3 separate regions of the Homo sapiens genome follow, and all the other regions are linked to region 3. The links come from fine-mapping of genetic effects on gene expression. A gene starts in region 3. Each other region holds a variant in brackets. All regions are shown on one strand. Distances are between the middles of the regions. Region 1 has its middle 47 kb from the start of CASD1. Region 2 has its middle 53 kb from the start of CASD1. Region 3 holds the start of CASD1 (CAS1 domain sialic acid O acetyltransferase 1).

Evidence for each region. PIP is the estimated chance that this variant, and not a neighbour inherited with it, causes the effect. A credible set is the group of variants that fine-mapping cannot tell apart.
Region 1: its variant is the best candidate, but not a certain one, in a credible set for the expression of CASD1 in anterior cingulate cortex (GTEx, PIP 0.70).
Region 2: its variant is the best candidate, but not a certain one, in a credible set for the expression of CASD1 in tibial artery (GTEx, PIP 0.53).

Annotation. Positions count from the first base shown.
Region 1 is chr7:94,459,798-94,465,027 of GRCh38, forward strand. No RefSeq gene overlaps it. Among named protein-coding and RNA genes, the nearest start is that of CASD1, 47 kb to the right of the region's middle. The variant G/A (reference allele first, on the strand shown) is at 2,603.
Region 2 is chr7:94,560,317-94,565,546 of GRCh38, forward strand. It overlaps a transcript of CASD1 not described here. Among named protein-coding and RNA genes, the nearest start is that of CASD1, 53 kb to the left of the region's middle. The variant C/A (reference allele first, on the strand shown) is at 2,931.
Region 3 is chr7:94,507,551-94,512,780 of GRCh38, forward strand. It overlaps CASD1 (CAS1 domain sialic acid O acetyltransferase 1), which reads left to right and starts at 2,259. Exons shown (of 18, transcript NM_022900.5): 1 at 2,259-2,667. The coding sequence starts at 2,535. RefSeq lists enhancers at 1,544-2,532, 2,533-3,519 and silencers at 2,053-2,272, 2,313-2,462, 2,563-2,922.

The DNA.
Region 1 (5,230 bases), 48 kb before region 3:
TCCACCCTCAAGTAGGCCCCAATGTCTGTTGTGCCCCTCTTTCTTTCCAACACATATATGTTTTATTCACTGAAAGAGTCTAGAAGCAATGACACTCTTTAAGAACTAACAATGAATATAAGTGAGTGCCTAGATTTTAGTTTCAAAATTTCATATTCCACTGAAAGGAATTCAAGATTTTTGGGGAAATAGCTGATTCTAGGACGGGAGCAAGAAAAGCACAAAATGAGTCTGAAACATCTTGTTGTACCGCAAAGTAAGACAGTACTAAAAGAATAACCGGAGCCAGCTCTGAAGGAACTCATGCTGGCTACATCTTGAAAATTTGAGTATTAAAAATATAATAATAATTGATCACAACCCAATGAATAAAATAGAAATCCTTGAGTTGATATAGACATACATACATACATACATACATACATACATACATACATACAGGATAAAGAAAAGCTCTTTCTTGGTAGAATTCTGTTAATAAAAGCCAAAAGAAAGAGAAATATAAAATTATCATATAGCAACCATCATAATAGTAATTGATGCAGACGGGAGCTGTCAATTGATGCCAAGTTTTCTTGATAGAAGTTTGAAGAAGAACAATATATTGGTATAATCTAGTATCTTTCTCCAAAATCTTCAACACTTACAAAGGGAAAATGGTGACTTTATAATGGAGAAATTTTGCAGAAACCAACATGATTAAGATCAGCATTATCAGTCACGGGACTGGTCAACATTATGTACCTCCAGATGGGTGCACTGAGAAGAACACAGCATCATATCTGTGGTATTTCCACCAAGTCAGCTAGGTCTAAGTCTGGACATAAAGAAACATCAATTGGACACAGAAAAGGGACATTCTACAAAACAGAAGACCTGTCCTTTAAAATTCTCAAGTTTATAACAAACAAAGACTGAGGAATTTCTCCAGACTGAAGGAAATTAAAGTCACAAAACTAAATACATCTGAACCTGGACAAGTAATGAAAAAAACACATGCACATACACACACTTTTGGAACATCTGATAAAATTTGAATGCATCTGTAGATTGGATTGTAATGATGCCTAATACCAGTTTTTGCTTTGGATTACTATATTGTCATTATGTAGAAGCGTGACTTTATTCTGGGGAAATATACATTTAAATATTTAGTTGTGATGGAGCATCATGTCCTTAATTTGCTCTTAAATTATTTAGAAAAGAATAACAATAGTTAAGGAGAGAGAGTACAAATGTTAACAATTGGGAAATCTGGATAAAGAGGATATGGCAGTTCTTTTTTTTTTTTTTTTTTGGCTGGAGTGCAGTGTTGAGATCATAGCTTACTGCAGCCTCAGACTCCTGGGCTCAAGTGATCCTCCCCAGGAGGTGGGATTACAGGTGCACACCACCATACCAGCCAAATTATTTGTATTTTGTTGCAAAGACAAGGTCTCTCTCTGTTGACCAGGCTGGTCTCAAACTCCTGTCCTCAAGCAATCCACCTCACACCCCACCGCCTGGCCCCTCTCCGTTCCTCCAAGTCTCAGCCTCCCAAAGTACTGGGATTACACACGTGAGCCATTGCACCCAGCCCGGCAATTCTTTATACTGTTCTTACAACTCTTTTGTACTTGGAAATTATTACAAAATATTTTTTAAGTAGAAAAAATTCTAAAAGCCACAAGTGAAAGAGAAAAAAAATTACTCACAAAGGAAGAAAAATCAGATTGATATTAGGCTTCTCATCAACAATATACGAAGATAATGAATTCACATTATCAGAATGTTAAAAGAATAAAACTTTAAAAATATAAATCTATATGCAGGCAAGTTTGCCCCAAAAAGTGAAATTAAGAGACTTTCATACATAGAACTCAGAAATTTTACCATCCTTTGGTGATCTTCGAAAAAATTGATAATAGCAACATACCAAACCAAAAAAGTGGACTAGAAGGAATTAATGGTATGCAATAATCAATAGACATCTTGTAAATCTTCATTGTCATATCCATGTAAGTACTAATTGTTTTTTAAATTTGTCTTTAATGGTGACTGGAGCTACAATCCCAGATGATAAAAAAAATAGATTTAATGAGATGGGAGTTAGGGAGTTCAGGTGAGTAAGAAAGACAAGAAAGAAGGACAAAACAAGCCTAGTTTTTTTTCTTTTTGGAGGGGGAAGAAGAAGATAAAGATACTCTTTACTTAAAAAGTGTGCATGCTAAAAACATGAAGATAACAGAGGAAAAAAGCATCAAAATATAATTTTCAAAGTTAAAAGCATGACTGTCATGAAAATATAGAAAGAACACATGTTAAAGATTTATAAAATGGCTTGTTTTTTTTTTGGTAAGCATTTAAAAATGTTAGAATAGGGCCAGGCATGGTGTCTCACACCTGTAATCCCAGCACTTTGGGAGGCTGAGGCGAGGGGATCACTTGAGCCCAGCAGTTCGATACCAGCCTCAGCAACAATGTGAGACATGGCCCCCCCACCGATCACATATCTATAAAAATAAATAAATAAATAAATGTTTAAAAACAAAAATGTTAGAATAAAATTGCTAGGTTAGACAATATTAAGAAAAATTATCCAAAATGTGGAATTAAAGCAGCT[G/A]CCTTTCGATATTATAAAGGGGCACAGACCTAATCAAGGGTTACTTAAGGCAGATTCTGCAAATGTTTTCTGTAGAGAACTAGAGAATATGTAAATATTTTTGGCATTGCAAGCTACAGGTTCTTAGCACAAAATCAGCCAAAGGTAATACATGAACTAATAGGCTGGCTAGGTTTGGCCCATAGCAAGCCAGATTTGCCCTGCAGGCTATAGTTATCAACCCCTGATTTACAGAAATGTACTCTTTCGACTCACTGCTTATCATTGATTAAGGGTCCAGATTTAATGAATTTACATATTAACTTTTATATTTTTTCCAGTGGAGGTGTAAATAATTTCTTTTGGTAGAAAACAGCTTCAAAGGTTGTGGTTTGTTATCCTGTAGACTATTAGACAGTTTTATTTTTAAATTTTCTTTGAACATGTTATTAAATGACAGAAATATGTAGCTTCCCAAATGTTGTTTGAAGTTATCTTAATATTTTACTAGTTCTCTCATTAATAAATGAGTTGAATAAAATGTTTGTCATATAAACATTTTTTATGAGAGTCATTAATTTTACCTTTTTGAAAATTACACTTTAACAATACAAAATGTACTCTAGGAAAAAACAAAACAAAACAGTTATGAATAGGATTATCATTCTTAATGGACAAAAATCTACAAATTAATATGTAACTTCGTAGTGTCTAAGCTATAGTCAAATAGCAAACAGCAAATTTAAACATGGGCATATTCCTCTAGATCACTAAGTAATCTGCTTTCCTTAGTCACCCCCAGTATGACATGAAAGGATATGCTTTATTCCCTCTGCCTTATTTCCCAGTTTTGGGATAAATTTTTTTTTTTTTTTTTGAGACAGAGTCTCTGTCTGTCGCCCAGGCTGGAATGCAGTGGCGTGATCTCAGCTCACTGCAAGCTCCGCCTCTGGGATCTCGCCATTCTCCTGCCTCAGCCTCCCGAGTAGCTGGGACTACAGGGGCCCACCACCACGCCTGGCTAATTTTTTGTATTTTTAGTAGAGACGGGGTTTCACCATGTTAGCCAGGATGGTCTCAATCTCCTGACTTCGTGATCCACCCGCCTCGGCCTCCCAAAATGCTGGGATCACAGGCGTGAGCCACCACACCCAGTCTTGGGAGAAAATTTTAACAAGAGAAAACAATGAGGAAAATCTTTATTTTATGCAACATAAAAAAGGACATGAGAAAAAGAAATAAGAATTATAATAAATTTAAAATTCAGGATGAGAAGGTAGAAATAATTCTAAACGTAGCAGTAATTATGATAAATATGAATGGGTGAAATTCCCAAAATAGATTTAAGCTAATCAGTCTCTGTTAACAAACTATTGAGTGTTGTTAACATGATATACAAATTAAAACAACACAGGCAGGTTTTAAAAGAGTAGGAAAAAAACATACCAGGCAAATTTTTTTTTTGACGGTACAAGGTGGGTAGCTTAGTTGTCATATGACATATAGTACTGGTTCCTAAATTTGTCTGTGAATCAGAATTATCTGAATTGCTTGTAAAGACTCCTGGGTCTGACTCCAGACCTACTGAATAGGAATTTCTAAAGAAGTGATGTCCAGGAATCTCTCATTTTAGCTAGCTCTACAAGTGGCTCTTGTTCAGCCCTCTAGGCCTTAGTCTGTGGACCTCAGTTTGAAAATCACTAATAAAGACAGGACTGGAAGCTGGATATCTCCTTCCTGCTTCTGCCACCAATGCCATGTGATCTTTTCAACCTATAAATTTTCTCCATTCTGAAACGTCCAATGACAATAATAATTACAGAAGCTCCTCCTTACCAAACACATGGAGATAATCTAGGAACAAACTAGGTTATACCATAGGGTTGTGTTTTGAGCTTTCTGGGAGAGGCATACTGTAAATATAAGGGCTTATGAATGCAACTACTTCTATCTGGGGATTTTTTTTTTTTCAATCTAAGATGAACTTGGTGATACTAATTGGTCACACAACACACATATAAACAATACAATTGCTAAATGCAGTGAGGCCCCAGACTAAGAAGTTAAAGGCAAGGCCAAACACCGGCTAGATAGAACTGGTGGGGTTTTTTCCCCTTGTTTTCCTTTTTTTTAAAAAGACTTAAAAATACAAACCCTTGTGTCCCAGGCTAACCTCCTTTTATTATTTTCCTTCCAGCTTTTATTTTAGATTCAAGGGGTACATGTGCAGATTTGTTATATAATTTGTAAATTATGTGTCACAGGGCTTTGGTATACAGATTATTTTGTCACCCAAGTAACAAGCATAGTACCTACTAGGTAGTTTTTTGATCCTCACCCTCCTCCCATCCTCCACACTCAAGTAGGCCCCGGTATTTATCTTTCCCTTCTTTATGTCTACGTGTACTTAGTGTATAAGTGAGAATGTGCAATATTTAGTTTCTGTAAATTAGTTCAGTCACCATGGAAAGTTGTTTGGAGATGTCTCAAAGAACTTACAACAGAACTACCATTCAACCCAGCAATCTTATTACTGGATATATAGCGAAAGGAATATAAATCATTGTACCATAAAGACATATGCACATGTATGATCATCACAGCACTATTCACAAGAGAAAAGACATGGAATCAACCTAGATGCCATCA
Region 2 (5,230 bases), 53 kb after region 3:
TTTCTTTCCTTGACCCCTTCCATTTTATCCCCACCTCTAGACCCTGTCACTGGGAGAGACAAAGTGATGGAAAAACATTTAGTTGAAGTCTGAGGAATCCAGTACTTCCAAAGTACGTAATGCATAAGGCACATGGAACTGGAGCCCTTTCTCAGAGACTACAAAATTAAAAATGGAAACTATAAAGAAGTAATACCTGGGCCAGAATATCCAGGAAAAGTTTTAGAGTAACGGGAGAAGTGGGATTTGTAAAGTTGTATATTTGGATATATTATTTACACTAATATCAGTGTGGAATGGATGCAAGAATATATAGATTAATGGATAGAATCAGCATAAAAACAGATTTTATCAAAAGATATTAGAATAAGGTAATGGTTTGATTTCACATTACTGGGGAAAGGTAGAAATATTCTTTAAATAGCCCTGGGACTATTGCTTAATTGAGGGGTGAGAGTGATAAATTCCCATTCTTACTCTGTATACCAAAAGAAATATAAAATGATTAATAGGTTTAAAGACATGTAAAATAAACAGTAGAAAATGTAGGTGAACATCTCATTCTTAGATGAGAAATGACCTGTTAAGGCTAAAAGGTAAATCCAGAATTGCTACATCTATTACGTGAAAATTTAAAATTTCAGTATGCCCAAAAACATAATAGAAAAAATACAAGTGGGAACATTTTAGAACATTAATATTTGATGAGAATTTAATGTCCTGGTTCGTGACCAGCCTGGCCAATATGGCAAAACCCCATCTCTACTAAAAATACAAAAAATTAGCCAGGTGTGGTGGTGGGGGCCTGTAATTCCAGCTACTTGGGAGGCTGAGGCAGGAGAATCGTTTGAACCCAGAGGCAGAGGTTGCAATGAGCCGAGATCACGCTATTGCACTCCAGCCTGGGCAACAAGAGCGAAACTCTGCCTCAAAAAAAAATTAATATCCTGGGTATATAGAGAGCTCTTATAGTTTAGAAACACCAAGCTGTTTTCCAAATTTCACTTGGTTCCTAATTCTACACAGAAGGTCACTTCATTCAGATACCTCAATGTTCATTACATAAATAATTTAACTTGGAAGAACATCAGGAAACCACAGTACTCAAAGTTAGGCTTTCTATGGATGCTTTTTGGGAATTGCGGGGAGGGCAAAGATTTTTTAATGGCCACTGTTATGCCTTCCTTAAACATTTTCCAAACTAAAATTAATTAAGACTAGGTTATATTGAGCAGAACTTTGGAACCTAAATGGCCCATCTGTCTGTGTGAGAGCACAGATTCAATTTTTTTTTTTCCTAAAGAGAACCTCGGTCAAACTCTAGAGTATTCTCTCAGAAACTACTGATTATTAAACTCAAGTTTGCCTAAAAGATGTCACTCCTACACCAGCTTAATGTCTCATTAAGACAGTTTTTCTTAGAACCCTAGGGTGGCTGAACTCCAGTCATGAACCGTCAGCTAGCTAATATCTATCTTCTGTGAGTTTGACTGTGGTTAACAGTATTTATAAAGGAATGTTAGGGATTTGCTTTTTATCACTTCCTCAGATACTTTAGAATGTACCTGAGAATTAAGTCTGGCAAGCACCTAGCAAAGACCGCCTGGACAGTAACTTCCTGACTTACCCCTAGAATTTCTCTTGAGTTTGAAGCCATTGGTTAGCATTGCAGGACATTCTATAAACAATTCTATGAAACTCATCATTGTGTCAACTGTAGGAATGTTGATTACATCACACAATGGGCTCTTTTTGTGGAGTCTGAAGTTATTCTGACCTTACTGTAATATTTGCACCTCTTGTAAACAGTTCATTTGCTACTATCTTAGGTACATTGTGAGTTGGCTTTTTATGTTTGCCGATAAGAAGCAAGAGCTAAATTTGTGCTCCATCTAGAAAACAGGGCACTTTGGTATTGTTTATATTAGTCTCATTCTTGATCCCTTTTTCCTTCTCATATACTTCAGATGATGTTATTTGGCTATATTTTGCCTAGCCTTATAAGCCATCTTACATTCTTTTTTGAAATGAGGCAGTCTGGTAGTCCTAAGTGTTTCTTCAGACCACACCAGTCAGGATGATCAAGAGTCATAGTATATACAAATGGTAGTAGTAATATTTTTGCCTCACTGGTTATGTTTGAAAATCCTAGTCTTCCAAGTCATTTATCTCCTCATTAGGGTCCCTGAGTTGCTCACGAAATGTCCCTATAACAAATGTTCACAGTTCTCTGCAATTTATGAAAATAAGGCCGAAAGTTCTCCTTATCCTGTTCACTTCATGTGTTTCTTTTCAGTCGATACAGTTTCCTTTTTTTTTTCTTTGAGATTACCAAAAATTCCAATGGTAGCTATGCCATTTCCTTCTCTAACTGCCAATTGTTTCCTCTTTTGAAATTGCTGCTCTGTGGACCAGATGTCAGGCTGCAAACTCAAGGTGTTGGTACACACTTGCCCTTATGACGTAGCAATAACCTCTTCTATGGATGCTTCTTACTGCCATGTCAACATGTTCCAGTCTGGGAGTGGTTTCATTTTAGACCAGGTGGTCTCCTACTGGGATGTAGTCTCAGCTGACCCCCTTTTTTTTTATGCCAGAGAATGCTGGAGGATTCAGGAAAATTCCTGTATTTTACAGCTTAGTTTTCCTGGCCCTTCAGAAAAATAAGAGACACCGGAACAACCTGATATGATGGTACCTAGAAGGAGTAAGATCTTCCTTATGCTCAACCCTATCTTACATACAAAGGCCTTTGTAGAAACAGCAGTATCACCTTTAGGGGGGTTCTGCTCTATGAATCTCCAATGATGTATGACAAAGTGAGTAGTGACTAAATTGCTGGAGAAATGAGTAGCAAGAAGGGACATGGAACCTGAAGACGTTGAGTGGACCACACAAGAAAAGTGGTTATACTACCTCCCTCCTTACCC[C/A]CTTTTCCAAATATCCTAAACGGAGGCAACATTAAAGAGGCGTCTTCCATGCAAGGGTCAGAAAAGGCCTCTGTGGAGATAATAGTTAAGCTCTGGAAAACTCTTATACATAGCTAAGGAATTTGAGGAAAAACAATTTTTTGGTGGTTTGGTCAATTAGAGAATGAAGCCATAACTAATTACTTACCACTTTCAATTTTTTTCTTAAAATGCCTGCTTATTTTTTTTTATCCTTGTGCAACTTAAGGGCTTGTCTTTTTCTTGGTAATTTAGAAGTATTCCTTGTGTAATAAGGATGAAAACTCTAATTTTGCAAACACTTTTCCCAGTTGCCAGTTGTCTTCTGTTTTGACTGTTATTTCTTACATTTTTTGTTTTATCAAATCCATACATTTTTCATTAATAGCACAGCCCTCATTTAGCCCCCCTCCCCCACGCCCCCGCTGAAAGCTGGCTACCATTTTTATCATTTGGTATATGTCCAGAGCAGTATCCCTAAGTGTGGAATGTGTTGCCCCCAGAACCCAAAGAGCCTACTAGGCACTAGGAGCTTCTTTCTTTGCAGTAGGGAATACAAGATGCAGCAATGTGTTTTTTATTTTGATGGACATGTCTTGTCATAGCCCTGACTGCTGGACTCTTAAAAAGTGTACTTAAGTGGCAAGACTACTAGTCTTTTAATGGCTTATTTCCCATACTCTAGAGTACGCATGTCTCACCAAGACCTCCAGTGTGATAACCAGTTTATGAGCATGATGTCCTCAACATAATCAACATAATATCCTATGGGATGTTTAGATAGTTTAGATCTCTTCAGACTATTTTATGACACAGCAAAAGAGTTACCATAGCGAAGAAGCAAATGAGTATTTTTGTCTCTTTCATGTGAATGCACACAATTTCTGATTAGAATGGAAAGAACACATTCACTAAGCCAGTAGACATGTACCTGAGGCCTTACTACTCTGCTCTAGCAATGAAACTGTGTCTGGCACAACAGTTGTGGTCCAGGCTACTGCTTGGTTGAGCTTGTTGTAGTGTACTGATATTCCTCAAGATCCATCTGGTTTCTGCAGGGCCAGACTAATGAATTAAAGTGATATGATAGGGACCACTATCCCTGCATTCTTTGGATCTTTAATGGTTGCACTAATACCTTCCATCACCCCTGGGATAAGAAATTGTAATTTACCGTCTTTGGCAGTTAGGGAGGCAGTTTCAAAGTCTTCCACTTGGCCTTCATCCTCTATGATAGCTCTTGCCCCACAGGCAAAGGACCCAATTGAGGCTAACTTCAATTTTCAAGTATATAAATTCCAATTATACATTCAGGAAATGACTGCAGGGTCCTGGCTAAAGTAGTAGTAAATGGGGTGCATGGTCCAACAGGATGGATCCATGGACATAGTGAACCTACTTTGGCCAGAACCCCATTTACTACTTAGTCTTTGCGTGCGCCCACTCTGAAGGCCATGAAAATACTTTGGGTCTTCATGTATCAATGTCAAATAGTTGTCAAAAAGGCTGGTTACTCTCCTTTTAACAGCAACAATCACATTAGTAAATGTCTGTAAATCTCTATGAGGGAAGAACTGAAGAAAGCTTTGCAGTACTCTATATCTTTGTCATTGCATTGCAGGGTTCTTTCTCTTGGGAAATTGGCTAACTCTTTAGGTAATGGGTTCCAGATCTGAACATAGTCTCAGATCTGGGAAATCAGCAAGGAATTGCAGTGCTTTATTGGGCTACAGCTCTCAGCCTCCTGCTCCTCTATTCTTGCCTTCTGGTTGTATATGTTAAGTAGCACAGTAATTCGCTGCCCATCTATTTTTCCCCTAGAGACACCATATTCTATTATCTATGTATACTACTCCTTCCCATTAAGACCCTTTGGCTACCCCCAAGACTCTAATGGTAAAGCAACTCTGACACTTATGTGCCACTACCTGGCCTCTATTATTTTGGGGCCTATCAACCCATTGTGAATAGCAAGACTAGTTCTGTGTATATTCCCAACCCATGTTTCAGAGTCCCAGGCTTCACATAAGGGTCCTAAATTTAGCGTAATAGACCTGCCTTGGCTGAGCATTTAAACACCTCTGGTGCTCTGTAACCCTAGTTATTAAATCCTGAACTTACCACCCACTGAAGGTATAGTTCCTCTTTGTAAGCGTCCTAAAAGGTCCTGTGGCTGTAAAACTTAGCTTATGTCTGTTAACTGCCTTCAGCTTCTCATCCTCCATCTACAGGACAGTCATACAAGTGAGCAATAACCCACTGACTTAACTGTCCCTGTAGGT
Region 3 (5,230 bases):
AGGAAGAATGGTCAACAATGTCAGGTGCCACAAAATGGTCCAGGAAGATAAGGAATATAAAGTGTCCCTTGGATTTAACAAGTAGTCATACCACACAGCCTTGGTGAAGAACAATGAAATGGCTGAAGAGAGAATGCTAATTGAGCCAGTGAAGGCAGAGAGTCAACACTGCTCTTTCTAGATGTTTGCCAGAGGAGGAAAGAGTTGATGAGGTAAACATGCAGGAACAGAGTCCATGGGTGTTTTTCATTAAAAAAAAATTTTTTTTGGAGGAAGGCAAACAGCAAGGTGATAGGGAGAATTGGAAGACACAGAAAAAGAATGATTTGCATGGGGATAACTGATGGAGGAATCAACACCCTCAAGAAAGGAGGATAAGAAAAGATTCAGAGCAGAGGTAGAGAGATTGGCCTTAAACTTGAGAGAAGAAAAAGGAGGTTCACAAGCTATTTACAGTATTTAAGAAAGCCTTCTGGAAATTGCAATTAATAGAATGTCAAGTTTCTTTACTTTTTGCAGGCATTAACTCAACCCTTTGGGTTAACACTGGTTATTGCATGCTGATCAGAAATTCTAATTTGCTGGTAATGACATCATAGAAATGTCTAGGATGTGATTGGCAGACCATATATTGTTGGCAGAGTTATCTGGTTTTTACAATACCCAATTCTTACAACATGTGATCAACCTCTGATCAGAATGACAGCCAAAATTAAAAGACTATTTGCAGGGAACAGTGCCTAAGTGTTTGTACACTTATTTAACTTTATTGCTTATTAGCATTACATCCATGACAGTGATGTATGTGATTTCATTTAAGTGACAAAATCTTTCAAGATATAAAGTCCATGGATGAAAACATAATAAAGAGTCCTTGGATGAAGAGAATGGGAATGAGTAGACAAGATCTCTACAGTCCCTTCATATCTAATATTCTATAATTTTAAGAGGGGCCTATAAGCACAAGTTCAGGAATGGCTAAATGGGAAAGTTGTAAAGAATACTTGACAACACCCCAACTAAACAATGACTCACTCTAAACAAGGCAAGGCAAGTAGAATGGCAAGCAATGTAAATAACCATTCCCATCTGGAAGGCAACAAGAAAAACCATTTAAAAAAGGTGGGGTGGGAGCGAGAGGAGAGTAGGGATAACAATGCTTTATTAAGGAAATGGAGTGCTGGCTTTATTGAGAATCACAAAACATTAACCAACGTTAGTAGCGGGGATGATTGTCATAAGCACATTAAGAAAAATTTTTTTTGGCTAGGCTTGGTGGCTCATGCCTGTAATCCCAGCACTTTGGGAGGCCGAGATGGGCAGATCATTTGAGGTCAGGAGTTCGAGACCAGCCTGACCAAAATGGTGAAACCCCCGTCTCTATTAAAATACAAAAATTAAACGGGTGTGGTGGCGGGCGCCTGCAATCTCTGCTACTCGGCAGGCTCAGGCAGGACAACCATTTGAACCCAGGAGGGGGAGGCTGCAGTGAGCGAAGATCACGCCACTGCACTAGAGCTTGGGCGACAGGGTGAGACTCCCTCTCAAAAAAAACGAATTTTTTTGGCACATCGACCTAGCCAAACTTGCGTAAATACAAGTGAGAGTCAGACTCTTTTCTCATCAACACCTACACTAAGTTAGGCTCCTTCTGTACCTTCCATTCGGAACTTTGGTGTACTTTCGCCCACCAGAACTGGGCAAACTGAGGACATTAAAAAAACGGTTTAAGAGAAACTGGCCAGAGCGGTGAGTTAAGTGTTAAGACTGGTTTCACTCCTGGGTTGGATGCCAGCAATCCATCGGCCAGCACCATCAACTGGATCCATCAATCCAATCTGGCCAGCACCCAGGGGCAGCCAGACTGACCAGCCAGGCCACGGATAGCCAGACAATAAACGACCTTAGGGTGTCCTTCGCATCCCGCTGGGCGGGTTCTGGCAGTAGAAGGCTGAGAAAGGGGAGTGTTGGGGAAGGAAGGAATGGGACGATGTGTACTTTTCTCCCGGAACTGTAGTTCTATTGCCCCAACCTGGGCTCAGGTAGCGGCCAGTAAACTAGGAGACAGCCCTAAGGCTCGCGTCCGGGCCAGGCGGGTACCCCTAGTACTCTCTCCCCACACCCCCATGGCTCTGCCGCAGCCGCCGCCGCCCGCCGGGGCGCGTGACCCGGTGACCCCGGAGCACTGGGCATCCGGACCCCCCTCGCAGGCGCAGCCGCTATTAAGGCAGGAGGCTAAAGAGGAGGAGGAAGGGGAGGAGACAGGCGTCCAGGGCGCCTGGGGAACCGGCACGGCGGAGCAGCGGCGGCGGGGCTGGGGGGAGGCCGCCGAGTCGGCCGCGGCCGAGGAGGGGCAGGCGGAGGTCGGGGGCGCCGCGGCCGCGGGGTCAGGTTCCCCGGCGGGAGGCGCAGGTGGCGGCCTGGGGAGCTGGCGGCCGCTCCTCGCCTGGCTGCAGCGGCGGCAGCCCCAGTGCTGCCCCTGTGCGGCGCCCCTTTCCCGCTCCGCCGCGCACTGTTGTCATGGAGGAACCAAGATGGCGGCTCTGGCCTACAACCTGGGCAAGCGGGAGATCAACCACTACTTCAGCGTGAGGAGCGCCAAGGTGCTGGCGCTGGTGGCCGTGCTGCTGCTCGCAGCGTGCCACCTCGCCTCCCGCCGCTACCGAGGTGAGCGGGCCCTCCCCTCTGCCCGGGCAGGCCGTGGGGGAGGCGGCGACGCGGCGGCTGGAGGCCGCCCCCATCGCCCAACACACGCCCACGCGGCCTTCCGCCGGCCCGGCCCGCGGGGGAGGCGGTTCCCCCAGGTGTCCCCAGCAGCGGCCGGCGCCCGAGGCCAACTGAGTGGACCCCAGTGGGGGCCACCAAAGGACAATGGCTGGTGGTTCTGGGCGCCCCGAGCCGCCCGCGCTGGGGTCGGGGGCGCCAACCCTGGACCTGGCCAAAAGTGCTGCTGAGGTCCGGCTCCTGAGCGGTCTGGGTTCGGGGAGACGCTCCAGATCAGGGGCTCGCGTGCAGGAAGTCGGACAGGCGGTCCTTGGGGGCAGCCCGGGGCGCATGAAGCCCAAGGCCGCCCTGCAAGGGGCACCGCTGCCAGCAGTGGGGTCGCAGGTCCTGCCTCTTAAGGGTCCGGCTCCTTAGCCTTTGTTTAATTTTGCCTCTGCCCTGTAACACCCAGTCTGGGCTGTTGGACAGCGGCAAGGGCCGCCCCCATTTTCCTTTGCCAAAAGGGCGACAGCTGGCAAAAGATGCCTGTGGCCAAATGGAAGAGGTGCCACCCAGCTTTTGTGATGCAGAAACGTTTAAAGGCTTCGGAGTGCACACTTTTTACAAAGTTAAGGCACCAGAGCAGATTTTTGGAAGGAAGTTGTGGGTTGACAGGCGTAAAGGTGGGCAGTTGAAAGCAAGTTGTAAGCACTTTGAAAGCAGGCCTTGGCCATGGGTTTTGAAATTGGTGTAAAGGGGAAAAGGAAATATGACCTGATTTGAGAATGAATTATCTTTCAGTAATCAAGGGATATTTACTTCTCCTTGCTGATTGATTGTTTTTTTTCCTTTGTAAAAATGTCACTGGGAGAGAGGCTGACAGGCAGAGGGAAATTAATAATGATAGGATCTTTTATTTTTGGCTCTTAATACTATCAAAGCCATTATCTGGCCAGCTCTTGGTGACTGTGAGATTAATCAGTCAAGATGTAATGTGTAATGGACAGGTGCAAATTAGCGCTGTGCCCGTTTAAATTTACACCTACTTTGGCAAAATATCCATAAACGGGTTGTTGGAGTCTGCGCTGTATTCTCATCCCAGGAGATCTTTCAATTTTGGTCAGTTTTGCTGCTTTATTTCTTCCAACTCTTGAGAATTAAAAATATTGTACTCTAGAGCCATACTGGGTGAACAGCTTTTAGTATACTAAATTGATTTTAAAAATTAGATTCTTTATAACCTTTTGGCCTCTCTCCAGCTCTCTCCAGATCACAGCCATACGACCTTGCAAGGCCTTGGTTTATCTACAATCATGTAAAACTAGCAATGTTGATGCATTGATTTGTGGTGGTTTTGAGGAAATATTTCTTTTAACTACTATTAATCATTTTATGCCAATTTGGTATAAAAGAACAGTAATTTAATTCAATTTATGTAATGGTAGTAGAGAGAAATTTTATAACTACAGTACTATTGTCCTAAGATAAATAAACATCTAGTCCCCTTCCTTTTATTTTTTTGTGCTTTTTATCTTTTGATAACCTTGGACTACTATTATTTTTAGATTATAGATTTCATCTTATCAAGATCTGTCATCAGCAGGGAGAATAGAATGTCAGATGGGGACTTATGAGTCAGTGTAGCAATCTGGGATTGTTTATAAAGCCTTCTCCAGAAGTAAGTCATCAGTTTCCATAGGTACTTCAGTGCCTTGAGTGTGAAGCATACACCTGGTGAGTGTACTTGCCCAGACTGAATGTCAAGAATTTGAGCTGAAGACTGGGAAAAATAAACATCTTACCAGGAATATCCTCATGCTTTGGCAGTATCAAACTGAGTCAGGTGCAATGCCCTTCACACAAAGATAATCATACATTTGACTCACATTATAACTCTTTAGGACAGAGGTGGCCAATCTTTTGGCTTCCGTGGGCCCCATTGGAAGAAGAAGAACTGTCTTTGGGCCACACATAATATTAACACTCATGATAGCTGATGAGCTTAAAAAAAATTGCAAAAAATCTCGTATCATTTAAAGAAGGTTTACGAATTTGGGCTGCATTCAAAGCCATCCTGGGCCTCCAGCAGCCCAGGCCATGGCTTGGAAAATCTTGCTTTAGAATAAGAAAGGATCTTACATTAGATGAAGGAGATTAGGCTGTGTATTTGGATTTTGAATGTGTGAGTATGAGTGTGCTGAGGCAAGGTAGAGTGAATGCAGTTTGGATATACATATTCAGTATCTCTTGCTTTACAAACTACCGAAAGTAAAGGAAAGAATTACCCACTACAGAAAGTAAAGCTTGGCGAATACTGTGTGCTAACGTTGAGCACTTATATGTCAGGGACTGTTCTACTAAAGGTTTTACATGTTTTAACTCATTTTGTCTTTATAACCATTCTATGAGGTAGATACAATTACCATATTTCACTCCTCTCCACTATTTTTAACATCTTTGTAATCAGGGTGAGTCTTTAAAACTTTGATTGCATGTCAAAGTTTAATTGGTAACATTTTTTTCTTAC